Linked DNA regions of Homo sapiens. The protein of the gene in region 1 interacts with the protein of each later gene in a biochemical or structural test. Each region holds a gene or a part of one and is shown in the gene's direction. Other genes may lie near its edges. The genes, in order: CTCFL and PRMT7.

Region 1 (7,290 bases):
CAGGAGTTTGAGATCAGCCTGGGCAACACAGGGAGACCCCCATCCCTCCAAAAAAATTAGCTGGTTGTGGTGGTGCACCCCTGTAGGCCTAGCTGCTCAGGAGGCTGAGACAGGAGGACCACTTGAGCCCAGGAGTTGGAGGCTACAGTGAGTCACGATCGCACCACTGCACTCTGGCCTCAAAGACAGAGTGAGACCCTGTCTCTAAAATAACTTTTTTAATTAAAAAAAAAAGAATAGTGCTGTTGGTACTGGACTAAGCAATACATTTATGGTTTTATTCTTTTAGGTGTTGTATTAGTTATCTATTTCTGTATGACAGATTACCTCAAAATGGAGTGGCTTAAAACCACAAACATTTATCACCTGACAGATTCTCTGGGTTGGGAACTCGGAAGTGGCTGAACTGGGTGGTCCTGGCTCAGGGCCACTCCTGAGGCTGCAGTCAGGATGTCCGCCAGGGCTGCATCATCCGAAGGCTGGACTGGGGCCAGAGGATCCACTTCCAGGACAGCTCCGCCACACAACTGCTGGCACCGGCCTCAGTTCCTTGCTACAGGGACCTCTCTGCAGGGCTGCTTGAGTGTCCTCCTGACTCAGAGCAAGTGAGAGAGTGCAAGTAGGAAGCCATGGTGCCTTTTGCAGTCTAGTCCTAAAAGCGGCACAACAGCCAGCTGTGGGGGCTCACACCTGTAATCCCAGTACTTCGGGAGGCCAAGGCAGGTGGATAACTTGAGGCCAGGAGCTCAAGACCAGCCTGGCCAACATGGTGAAACCCTGTCTCTACTTTAAAAAAAAAAAAAGAAAATAGCTAGGCGTGGTAGTGCACGCTTGTAATCCCAGCTACTTGGGTGGTTGGGACGGGAGGATCACTTGAACCCAGGAGACAGAGGTTGCAGTGAGCTGAGATTGTGCCACTGGCCTCCAGCCTGGGCGACAGAGCAAGACTCTGTCTCAAAAAAAAAAAAAAAGTGGCACATTCTAGTCACAAGAAATGAACCATGAAGTCCCACCCACACTCGAGTGGGGAATGAAGTTTCTTTTGAAAGGAACAGCATCAAAGAATTTCAGGACATTTAAAAACCACTGCACATGGCTAGCTAGATCCTTGGACCATGTAGGCTTCAGCCTAACTTTATAAAAGTTTTATAAAAGTTGAATTTCCTGAAGTTGACTATTTTTTTAAAAATATTTCTTCTTAAAACAGTAGTGTAGTTGTGTTTTTCTGAGTAGCACAGTGGGATAGTTCTGGAATGTCAACCCTATTAGTTTAAAATTTCAAATAAAAGCTGTGGCAGTGCTCCCAAAACACCATTGCTCATGCAAAAATTGTGAAGAGTTAAAATTAACGAGTAGAATTCTAAAGAGAAAAAAACTGCTCTTTGGTGCAAGAAATAAAAATGTAGAGAAAAGAACAAGTCTGCCTCATGCAGTCCCTCAGAACATAAAATTTTTGAAATTCCGATTCAAGAAAGCATATTTGGACTTGTGTCTAAAATATAAAAAGAACTCTTATAACTCAGTAAATAGACAGATACCCAATGAAAAACAGGTAAAGTATCTAGGCCAGGCGCGGTGGTTCACACCTGTAATCCCAGCACTTTGGGAGGCAGAGGCAGGTGGATCACAAGGTCAGCAGTTCAAGACCAGCCTGGCCAAAATGATGAAACCCCATCTCTACTACAAATACAAAAATTAGCTGGGCATGGTGGCACATGCCTGTAATCCTAGCTGCTCAGGAGGCTGAGGCAGGAGAATTGCTTGAACCCAGGAGGTGGAGGTTGCAGTGAGCTGAGACTGTGCCACTACAGTCCAGCCTGGGCAACAGAGCGAGACTGTCTCAGGAAAAAAACAAAACAAAACAGTTAAAGTATCTAAATAGACCTTTCTCCAAAGAAGACATACAGGTGGCCAGTAAGCGTAGCGTCATTAATCACCAGGGCAACGCAAATCAGTTTCTGCCACGACTTCTTGAGTCTGCCCTTGTGTCATGGAAGCAGCTGTGGATGCAGTGTGTAAATGAATAGACATGGCTGTGTTCCAGTAAAACTTGCTTTCACAAACAGTTGGCAGCCAGATTTGACCCACTGGTTGTCGTTTGCCAACCCCAGTGTCTAAGCATAAAATGGAAGAAGTTTAAACAACCTGTTCCATCACCCCCATTATGTGTAAATTCTTCCTTCTTCCATCATAAACGCAGACAGTCCTGTTAAGCACAGTGGGAAAGTCAAAATGGGAATCAGGCGGGATGTTTCGCATAATTTGCAAATTTCAACACCTGTTGCCAGTTTTTTTACTTTTGCCTAGGACCTTTTCAAAAAGTGAAAATTTTCTGACTTAAGATTATCCTGAGTGTTTGTTAGATGAGACTATGTCACGAGTAGGCTTGACTAGGGGAAGTCTTTGGCTTTTATTCCTGAATGTTGTATACAGTTTCATAACTGCCACCCATGACCTCTGCTCAGTAGCTTCAAGAGAGTAGCTAACAGAAAAGTAAAATCTTTATGGTATGTAGTTGATGGTTATGAAATTGACTGATGTATTGAATTTTTGGTTCAACATCAGTCTTCACTTTAGAGAGTAGAAACATTCTAGAAAAATAAATTTTAAGGCCGGGCGCGGTGGCTCACGCCTGTAATCCCAGCATTTTGGGAGGCCGAGGCGGGCGGATCACGAGGTCAGGAGATCGAGACCATCCTGGCTAACATGGTGAAACCCCATCTCTACTGAAAAATACAAAAAATTAGCCGGGCGTGGTGGCACATGCCTGTAGTCCCAGCTACTCGGGAGGCTGAGGCAGGAGAATGGCATGAACCCGGGAGGCGGAGCTTGCAGTGAGCAGAGATCGTGCCACTGCACTCCAGCCTAGACGAAAGAGCAAGACTCCGTCTCAAAAAATAAATAAATAAATAAATAAATTTTGTCTTCTCATTGATTTCTATTATTAAAAAAAAATACTTAAAGCAAGCTAGCTTTTGGCTAGAGCTAAGCACAACAGAAAGGGTCACCTTTAAAAAGTCATCATTTTTGCACAAGATTATCAAAGGTGCATGCTACCCACAGTTTTCCCAAAGGCCATCTCTTTAACTGTGCATTTTTCAGTGCCTTTGGGGAAGCCGACTCTTGTTATAGAACCAAACTGGGGTCTGCTTGCCTGGTGCAGTAAGACCAGATATCCACACCACAGTTTGCAGCAGGAGTTTATTTGCAGGGTGCCAAGGAAGCAGAAGCTACAGACAAAATTATAAATCAGCGCATGGAGGATACCTTGCCCTAAAAGGGCAGGATATCTTGCAGCAAGGGCTTACAGGTTGTAGGTAGATTCAGAGACTGGTTTGCAATTGGTTAAGGAAGAGAAGTTTTGTTTAAAATTTTGAGAAAAGAGTATTAGCTCTGGTTCACGAGGCATGACCTCCTCTAGGCCTCTCAGGAGGAAATTAAGAACAAAATTAGAACAAATTTAGCAGTGGTCAGATTTCAGCCCCCAGGTCCTCCTTATCTTAGGTCTCCCTGCCGGTGGACCTGTTTGGTAAAGAGCCAGGTTTCTAAAAAACAACTCAGGGACGGATGTTAGGATGTTATCTTGGCCAGTGCGGTGGCTCACGCCTGTAATCTCAGCACTTTGGGAGGCCAAGGCAGGTGGATCACTTGAGGTCAGGAGTTTTGAGTCCAGCCTGGCCAGCATGGTGGAACACTGTCTCTACTAAAAATAACAAAAATTAGCTGGGTGTGGTGGCACTCGCCTGTAGTCCCACCTACTTGGGAGGCTAAGGCAGGAGAATCGCTTGAACCTGGGAAGTAGAGGTTGCAGTGAGCTGACACCATGCCACTGCACTCCAGCCTGGGTGACAGAGCGAGACTCCCATCTCAAAAAAAAAAAAGGAGACGGGGGGCGGGTGCAGTGGCTCATGCCTGTAATCCCAGCACTCTGGGAGGCCAAGGTGGGCAGATCACAATATCAGGAGATCGAGACCATCCTGGCTAACACGGTGAAACCCCGTCTCTACTAAAAATATAAAAAATCAGCCGGGCGTGGTGACGGGTGCCTGTAGTCCCAGCTACTTGGGAGGCTGAGGCAGGAGAATGACGTGAACCCAGGAGGCGGAGCTTGCAGTGAGCCGAGATGGCGCCACTGCACTCCAGCCTGGGCGAGTGCCCCAAACATCCTGAGTGTAGCTTCCTTGGCTATTGTTTTAGGTTTCTATCACCTTTTCTTTTCTTTCTTTTTTTTTTTTTTCTGTCACTCAGGCTGGAGTGCAGTGGTACAGTCAGCTCACTGCAGCCTCGACCTCCGGGGCTAAAGCGATCCTCCCACCTCAGCCTCCCTCCTGGGCCTCCTAAAGTACTGGGATTACATACGTGAGTCACAGTGCCTGGCCTCCTATTACCTTCTTGCTTATCAAGTTGCTTATTTACTTCTTAGGGCTAGCGAGGTGTGTGGAATTGCCCTCGAAAGAACTCAGGATTTTTCTTTCTTTCCATGCGTGGGGTCCCCACAGGCCCCTGAGAGGGGTCCCTGCCCCATCTCACTCGCCTTGTGTGTTCTGTGTCAATTCTCCGACAGATTAACCTGCACAGACATTCGGAGAAGTGTGGATCAGGGGAAGCAAAGTCGGCTGCTTCAGGAAAGGGAAGAAGAACAAGAAAGAGGAAGCAGACCATCCTGAAGGAAGCCACAAAGGGTCAGAAGGAAGCTGCGAAGGGATGGAAGGAAGCCGCGAACGGAGACGGTACTGATTTTACGCAGATTTGTTTTTACCGCCTCAGTGATTTTCTGGTTGTGACTATCCTGGGTGCCGAGTGTTACTGTCCAGGGGATGTGTCCAGAGCCCCTATTTGTCCACCAGTCGGTCCTGCAAGGTGGCTTGTGCCAGATCTCTCAGAATGGCAGTGAGCATAGCGTGAGAAAGTCAGTGTGAGAGCCCCACGCAGGTCCATGTGTGGCCCCCACCCCGAGGAGCCCTCTTCCATCGCATTGGACTGTCGCCTGCAGCTACAGGGACTGTCCTGGGCTGTTGCAATAGATGACCACAAGCTGAGTGGCTTGGGACAACAGAAATTGATTTTCAAATAGCTCTAGAGGCCAGAAATCCTCAATCCAGGTGTGGGCAGGGCCGCCCTCCCTCGGGGGACCTAGGGGAGGGTCCCTCCTAGCCTCTTGCAACTCTGGTGGCTCCACCATTCCTCAGTTTGTGGCCACATCCTCCAGTCTCTGCCTCTGTCTTTTCCTAGCTCTCTCCTCTCTTCTGTGTGTGGGCCTTCTCTTCTGCCTCTTACAAAGACATTTATCATTTAGGATTTAGAACTTCTTTTGAAAAAAGGAGGTCAGCTATGGGGCTTAGGATATGGACATATCCCTTTAGGGGTCACCATTCAGCCCCCACAGCCATCACAGTCTTCGTCCTCTGGCCTCTGGGAGCTGAAGTGAGTTCCCAGGTTGGCTGAAGCTGGGCCCTGTCCTGTGTGTCCTGTGAATGGCTCTGCTGTAAGAGGGGCCAACCTGACACCTGCACAGGTGAACACCTGCACTGTTCACCTTCTCCATTCCTTTCCTCTGAGAACCTTAGAACCGTAGATGACTGGAAACTGTCCAGACTTTTACGGCACAAGCAAATACCCCACGTTCTCATTCCAGACTCAGTCCCTGCATTGCGAATGTTCCCACAGATGACGGTCGCCCTCCACCTGCCTTTCCTCAAGAGTTACCAGATCAGATAGAGGATGCCCAGCTCAATCTGAATTTCAGATACACAGTGAATCATTGTTTAAATGTGTCCCATGCACTATTTGGGATATACTTATACTAAAAAAAATGTTCATCATGTATCTGAAACTCGGGTAGAAGCGGGCATCCTGCAGTCCTTCCCACTCCCTCTGTGTGGAGTCGGTTCTGGGTCCCTGGTTCCAGTCGCTCTGTCCACAGGCAGCACTCCCCCACTCTTTCTCTGCGTCTCACCATCTGGCAAAGCCCTAAGCCTGGGTGTGCCCCCGGCCTGCCTTTCCCATGCCTGCGTCACACAGCCAGGCCCTGCCTGGCAGGGAACTGGTGAGACTGAGGGGTCCCAGGCAGTGCCCCATCACTCAGCTCAGTTGGAACTCTCCAGAATTGTGCACACTGCCCATGCGCGGAGCACCCTCCTTTCTCCTCCAGGCATCGGCAATTACCACTGAGCTCATGCAAGTCCCTTCTTATCATGACCACAGGCCTCTGCAGGGGGCACTGTCATCCATCTGACAGGGAGAGAGCTCCATCACAGGGTGGGGACGAGCCTGCCCAGGTGCCCAGAGCCCTCATTCTGAACCTCAGCACCAATAACTTTTCCACTGATTTCCAGTGAGCACCTTCATCCCAAACTCCCAGCCCCTGCCTCCCTCCCTCTGGGTGGAGGCCTCACTGACTCTGCACCAGCAGATGGGCTCTGCTGCCCGCTGCCCCGGCATTCCTGTGTCATCCCACTCCCAGCTGGAGTTCCCGCCATCCTCCGCCAGCTCCTGGGGCTTCTCCATCCGGCCCCGCAGGGCACAGGGCTGTCCACAGTGCTCATAGGGGCAGATCAGAAGAAAAACCAGTGTCTCACTGATGGGTATCAAGCAATGAATGCAGCCTGCATTCCATTTGGATTCCTTTATACCAATGATGTTGTAAAATATCATTTTTCACATTTTTTAATGGAGGAAGGGGCTGGAGGAGCCACCCCTCCCATCTAAGGCCCCTTCTGACTCTGAGTCTGGAACCCACCCCCCAGATGAGCAGCTTTATGTCCCCCACCCACCCTCCTCAGCCAACTCACCCCTGCAGGCCTGCTCTTTCCTATCAGCCTTAAACATGCTCCGTATCTTCAGAAAAATAAAAGCACTTCGCGCGACCACCCACCTGGTCCTGCGCTGCCCCTCCTGCACACTTCACGCTTATTTGGTTCTTTAATAAGTGCCGGATTCCCACATGCAGGGCACCGCAGGCTCCTCCAAGGCGGGCCTGGCCCATCGGGTCCGTCCCCAGCTCCTGGCACTAGGCCTGGCCTCAGCATTGCTCGTTAAGTCACCACTTGTTGAATAAACGAGTGAATAGTAAGCACAGTCCTTTACTGGAGAAGACAGACCGGTGAAATTTGACCCACAGTTCATCAGCGCACATTGTAGAAACCCAAGGCCGGGCTACTGGCCACCTCGGCTCTGAGTTTAAGTCAGATCCTAAAGGGTCCCTGGAGAAACGTGACTTCCCCGCTGATTCCGCACCTAAAGGACACTTGTGCAGTTCTCCACACCTTGACACCTAAATGTAGTGGTTTT
Region 2 (3,356 bases), on another chromosome or scaffold:
ACCGTGGAGCTCAGAAGGTGGGTGCAGAGAGGGCTGGGGGGCAGGGAGGGGCTGCTGCTTGCCCTTGGAGTTCTCACCCCCGTGGTGAGCACAGCTGGCCTGGGAGACGCTGACACGTGGAGGGGGTATTCGTCCTCCCCACAACCTTGCCCTTCCCTGTCAGAGTGGCCCTGCGCGTGTGGTGGTTCCCACGGTCCTGTGTGTGCCACTGGTGGAGGAGCCAGGAAGGGCTCTGCTCCCCCTCTACAGCTGAGGCTCCCTTGTTGGATCACAGCTCAGGAAGATGGGAGCTTACTTCCTGTGGTCACCGATGCACCATTTTCCTGAACCCTCCTGGGAGCTGAAGCAGGTCAGGGTCAGCAAGTGCTGCTTGCGTCCAGGGACGGGCAGCCCTGTCCTGCTCCGGCCCTCACCCCACCCTCGCCCGAGGAGTGACTTCTCCTGGAAGCACCTCCCAACTCGGGGCAGGCAGCCAGGCAGGGCGGGCGCCATCACCTGAGCTCCCAGGGTTGCTGTCTGGGGCATCAGAGGGGCCTTCCGGCCTTCAGTGCCAGGCTGTGCCTCAAGCTCCCCCAGACCCTGCAGCCACACCGGCCCTGCCCCATGTGTGGCCCGGCTGCAGGGCTCGGGTTGGCTCAGGTGGGGGCTTGGCTGCGGCTCTTCTGGCTGGGGTTTTTCTGAGGAACGTTTATGTAACTGCAGCACTAGGAACTCCCGGCAGGGCAGGAAGGAAGTGGGGAAGACCACAGGTTTCTGGAAAGCCGCAGGAGCTGCAGCTGTTCCCCCGCTGCCTCTTGTGTGACTACTTCTGCTGGGCCCCCCTCTCCTTGACAGGCCCGGGCAGAGCCACGCAGCGGTGCTATGGATGGAGTACCACCTGACCCCGGAGTGCACGCTCAGCACTGGCCTCCTGGAGCCTGCAGACCCCGAGGTAGTGCCTGCGCACCGGGCCCAGTGTGCGTGCAGACCCTGAGAGCAGGCGCCGCCTGGGGAGGCCTCCCTGCCCCCATGCTCTGGGTGTTTCTGTCACAAGTTCTTCGGGCCAGATGATGACCCCTCAGTGGTCCTGGGCCATCTGGCCCCTGAGCAGCTTCTCTCTGCTGCGAGCTGCCTGGGCTGGAGGCTGGCTAGGAAGGAGGCTCAGGTGCCAGGGAGCCCTCACCATCTTCCTGCTCTTCTTCCTACAGGGGGGCTGCTGCTGGAACCCCCACTGCAAGCAGGCCGTCTACTTCTTCAGCCCTGCCCCAGATCCCAGAGCACTGCTGGGTGGCCCACGGACTGTCAGCTATGCAGTGGAGTTTCACCCCGACACAGGCGACATCATCATGGAGTTCAGGCATGCAGATACCCCAGACTGACCACTCTTGAGCAATAAAGTGGCCTGAGGGCTGGGGTTCTGAGTGGCTCATGGCTTTCTAGCGGGGAAGGCTGAAGGCCCTCCTCTCCTCTCTGGGAGCTGCTCGGCCTCAGGGATGGGAAAGACTGCGCCGTGTTGCATCTTGTTGCATCTTTGCACTGCTGGCCTCTGGCTCCAGCTGTGGCAGGAAGCATGAGAGGGTGACTGAATTTGGAGCCCTGGAGGGGCTGGGAAGACCCCCCTGCTTGTGCTTCTGAGGTGCTGAGAATGCTCCAACACAGAGACATCTCTCCCCAGCTGGGAAGGGAGTGGAAGCACAGGGAGCTTGTGGGGCTGGCCGGTGGGGTTGTCCACGCCGCCCTTGGCGAGCAGTCCCCGTGGCGGGAGCCTGTCCTGTCTGTCTCACTCTCGAGGATCTCCGGGTCCCTGCTCTTCTGGCTTCTGCTAGGAGGGTGGAGATGCTGAGTTGTGGCTGGGTCTCTGGGGCTTGAAGACCCTGGCTGGGCCCGGGCTGAGAGGCCTGGGTTCTGGCCCTTTCACCTGACAGGTAACTTCAAGCCACATCCATAGGTGTCTGGCCTCAGTGCTGCACCAGCTGGTGGCCTGCCAGGACCTGAGACTGGACACAAGGCAGCTGTCCCAGAGCAGTTCCTGAGATGCAGGCCCAGGAAAGTGGCTGTCAGGGGAGCTGGGAGGCAGCCCTGTTCCCTGCACCTCCCTCAGATTGGAAAGCCCCTCCTGCAGGTGGGGTATGGCAGGGAGCAGCCCCTGCCCAGCGCCGCTTCACCAGGAAGGTCAGTAGGTGCCGTGGCCTTGCTTCTCTCACACACTAACCCCCCTTTGGTTATGTCCCAGCTCTCAGAGGTAACAGCAGACACCACGTGAGAGAACCCAGTGGCCTCTGGCTCGCAGCTTAGAAGGTGAGGCTTGTGCCAGGCCAGCCGAGCCGCCTGTATGAGCAGAGTTCCGGTGTCCTCGGATTCAGGGCAGACTTGGGCAGTGCCTGTCCTGCAGTTGGGGGCAGGAACTCCCTCCCCTGCCCCCAGGCGTGCCCCTGAGGCCTGGCCCCAGCTTGTCGCTGAAATAAGTGGAGAACACCAGCCTTGAGCCTCACAGTTTTATTTTCTCCTCGTTATCCATCCTTCCTTTCAGCACCAGTAAGGAAAAAGAACACCTCTCTTCGCAAAATATTTTATCAGGTGTAAAGACTTGTTTTTCTTCTAGGGAAGAACCGTCTGGATATATATTTGATAATGTTTTTACCAAAACCATAGGTGTGCTTACCATAGAAAACCCCTAATGTCCCATGAAGATACAATACAGAAAAAAATACAGAAATTAAAAAAGTTTTTATAACAGTATTTCTAAATCTCAGCAAGTTAAAAAGCAATAGTTAAAAAGCATCAAGATTAATATACTTAAAACTTAAGGTGGTTTTGGACAAATGAAAATGAACATTTCCTTCCTCAGTGGCCCCCGCGCCTTGTGGCTTCCTTTGAGACTGGGCCTAGGGCAGGAACAGAGTCTTGGTATGGGCCTCGGGTGACCCGTGTGCCCACCCCTGCTAGGCCTTAGATGCCACAGAATCTGAGATCCAGCAATGGTTCACTTTAAAAAATCAGTGGAAGGGCCTGGCCTGCACACAAGGCCCGGGAGTCCATAGGCAGCCACAATGAGACACGTGGGTGGGGGGGTCCCGGTCTTGGTGCTGAGGGAGGTGTGCGGGGGCCTGGGGGCCGCACATCCTTACTCTGGACCCCAGGACCTGACTAGGCAGAGGCGACCTTGTGATGACAGAAAATGACTTGCCTAAGGCCGCCTGTGAGGTGGGAGGGGAGGAGCATGCAGCCCTGACTCCCACGCCTGCTGCCCCGGGAGGGGGTGCCTGGGTGGGGAAGCTATGTTGGGGTCTGGTGTGGGGGCCCTGCCCGGGCCTCAACTGCTCTCCCTGTGCAGGCAGTCGGCAGGCGGCTCGGGGTCTAGGGGTCCAGGGCCGGCC

Evidence for each region.
Region 2: the proteins of CTCFL (region 1) and PRMT7 form a complex in vitro, tested with the Homo sapiens proteins (one study listed by BioGRID).

The regions. Positions count from the first base shown.
Region 1 is NC_000020.11:57,500,876-57,508,165, reverse strand, and holds part of CTCFL (transcriptional repressor CTCFL), read left to right. Parts: intron 1-289; coding exon of another isoform or gene 290-301; exon of another isoform or gene 302-322; coding exon of another isoform or gene 323-370; exon of another isoform or gene 371-373; coding exon of another isoform or gene 374-583; exon of another isoform or gene 584-1,160; intron 1,161-4,564; coding exon 4,565-4,730; intron 4,731-7,290. UniProt on the Homo sapiens protein: Testis-specific DNA binding protein responsible for insulator function, nuclear architecture and transcriptional control, which probably acts by recruiting epigenetic chromatin modifiers.
Region 2 is NC_000016.10:68,355,867-68,359,222, forward strand, and holds the end of PRMT7 (protein arginine N-methyltransferase 7), read left to right. Parts: coding exon 1-17; intron 18-163; exon of another isoform or gene 164-274; coding exon of another isoform or gene 275-344; exon of another isoform or gene 345-349; intron 350-834; coding exon 835-931; intron 932-1,187; coding exon 1,188-1,358; 3' UTR 1,359-1,904; coding exon of another isoform or gene 1,905-1,908; 3' UTR 1,909-1,927; coding exon of another isoform or gene 1,928-2,012; 3' UTR 2,013-2,718; downstream 2,719-3,356. UniProt on the Homo sapiens protein: Arginine methyltransferase that can both catalyze the formation of omega-N monomethylarginine (MMA) and symmetrical dimethylarginine (sDMA), with a preference for the formation of MMA.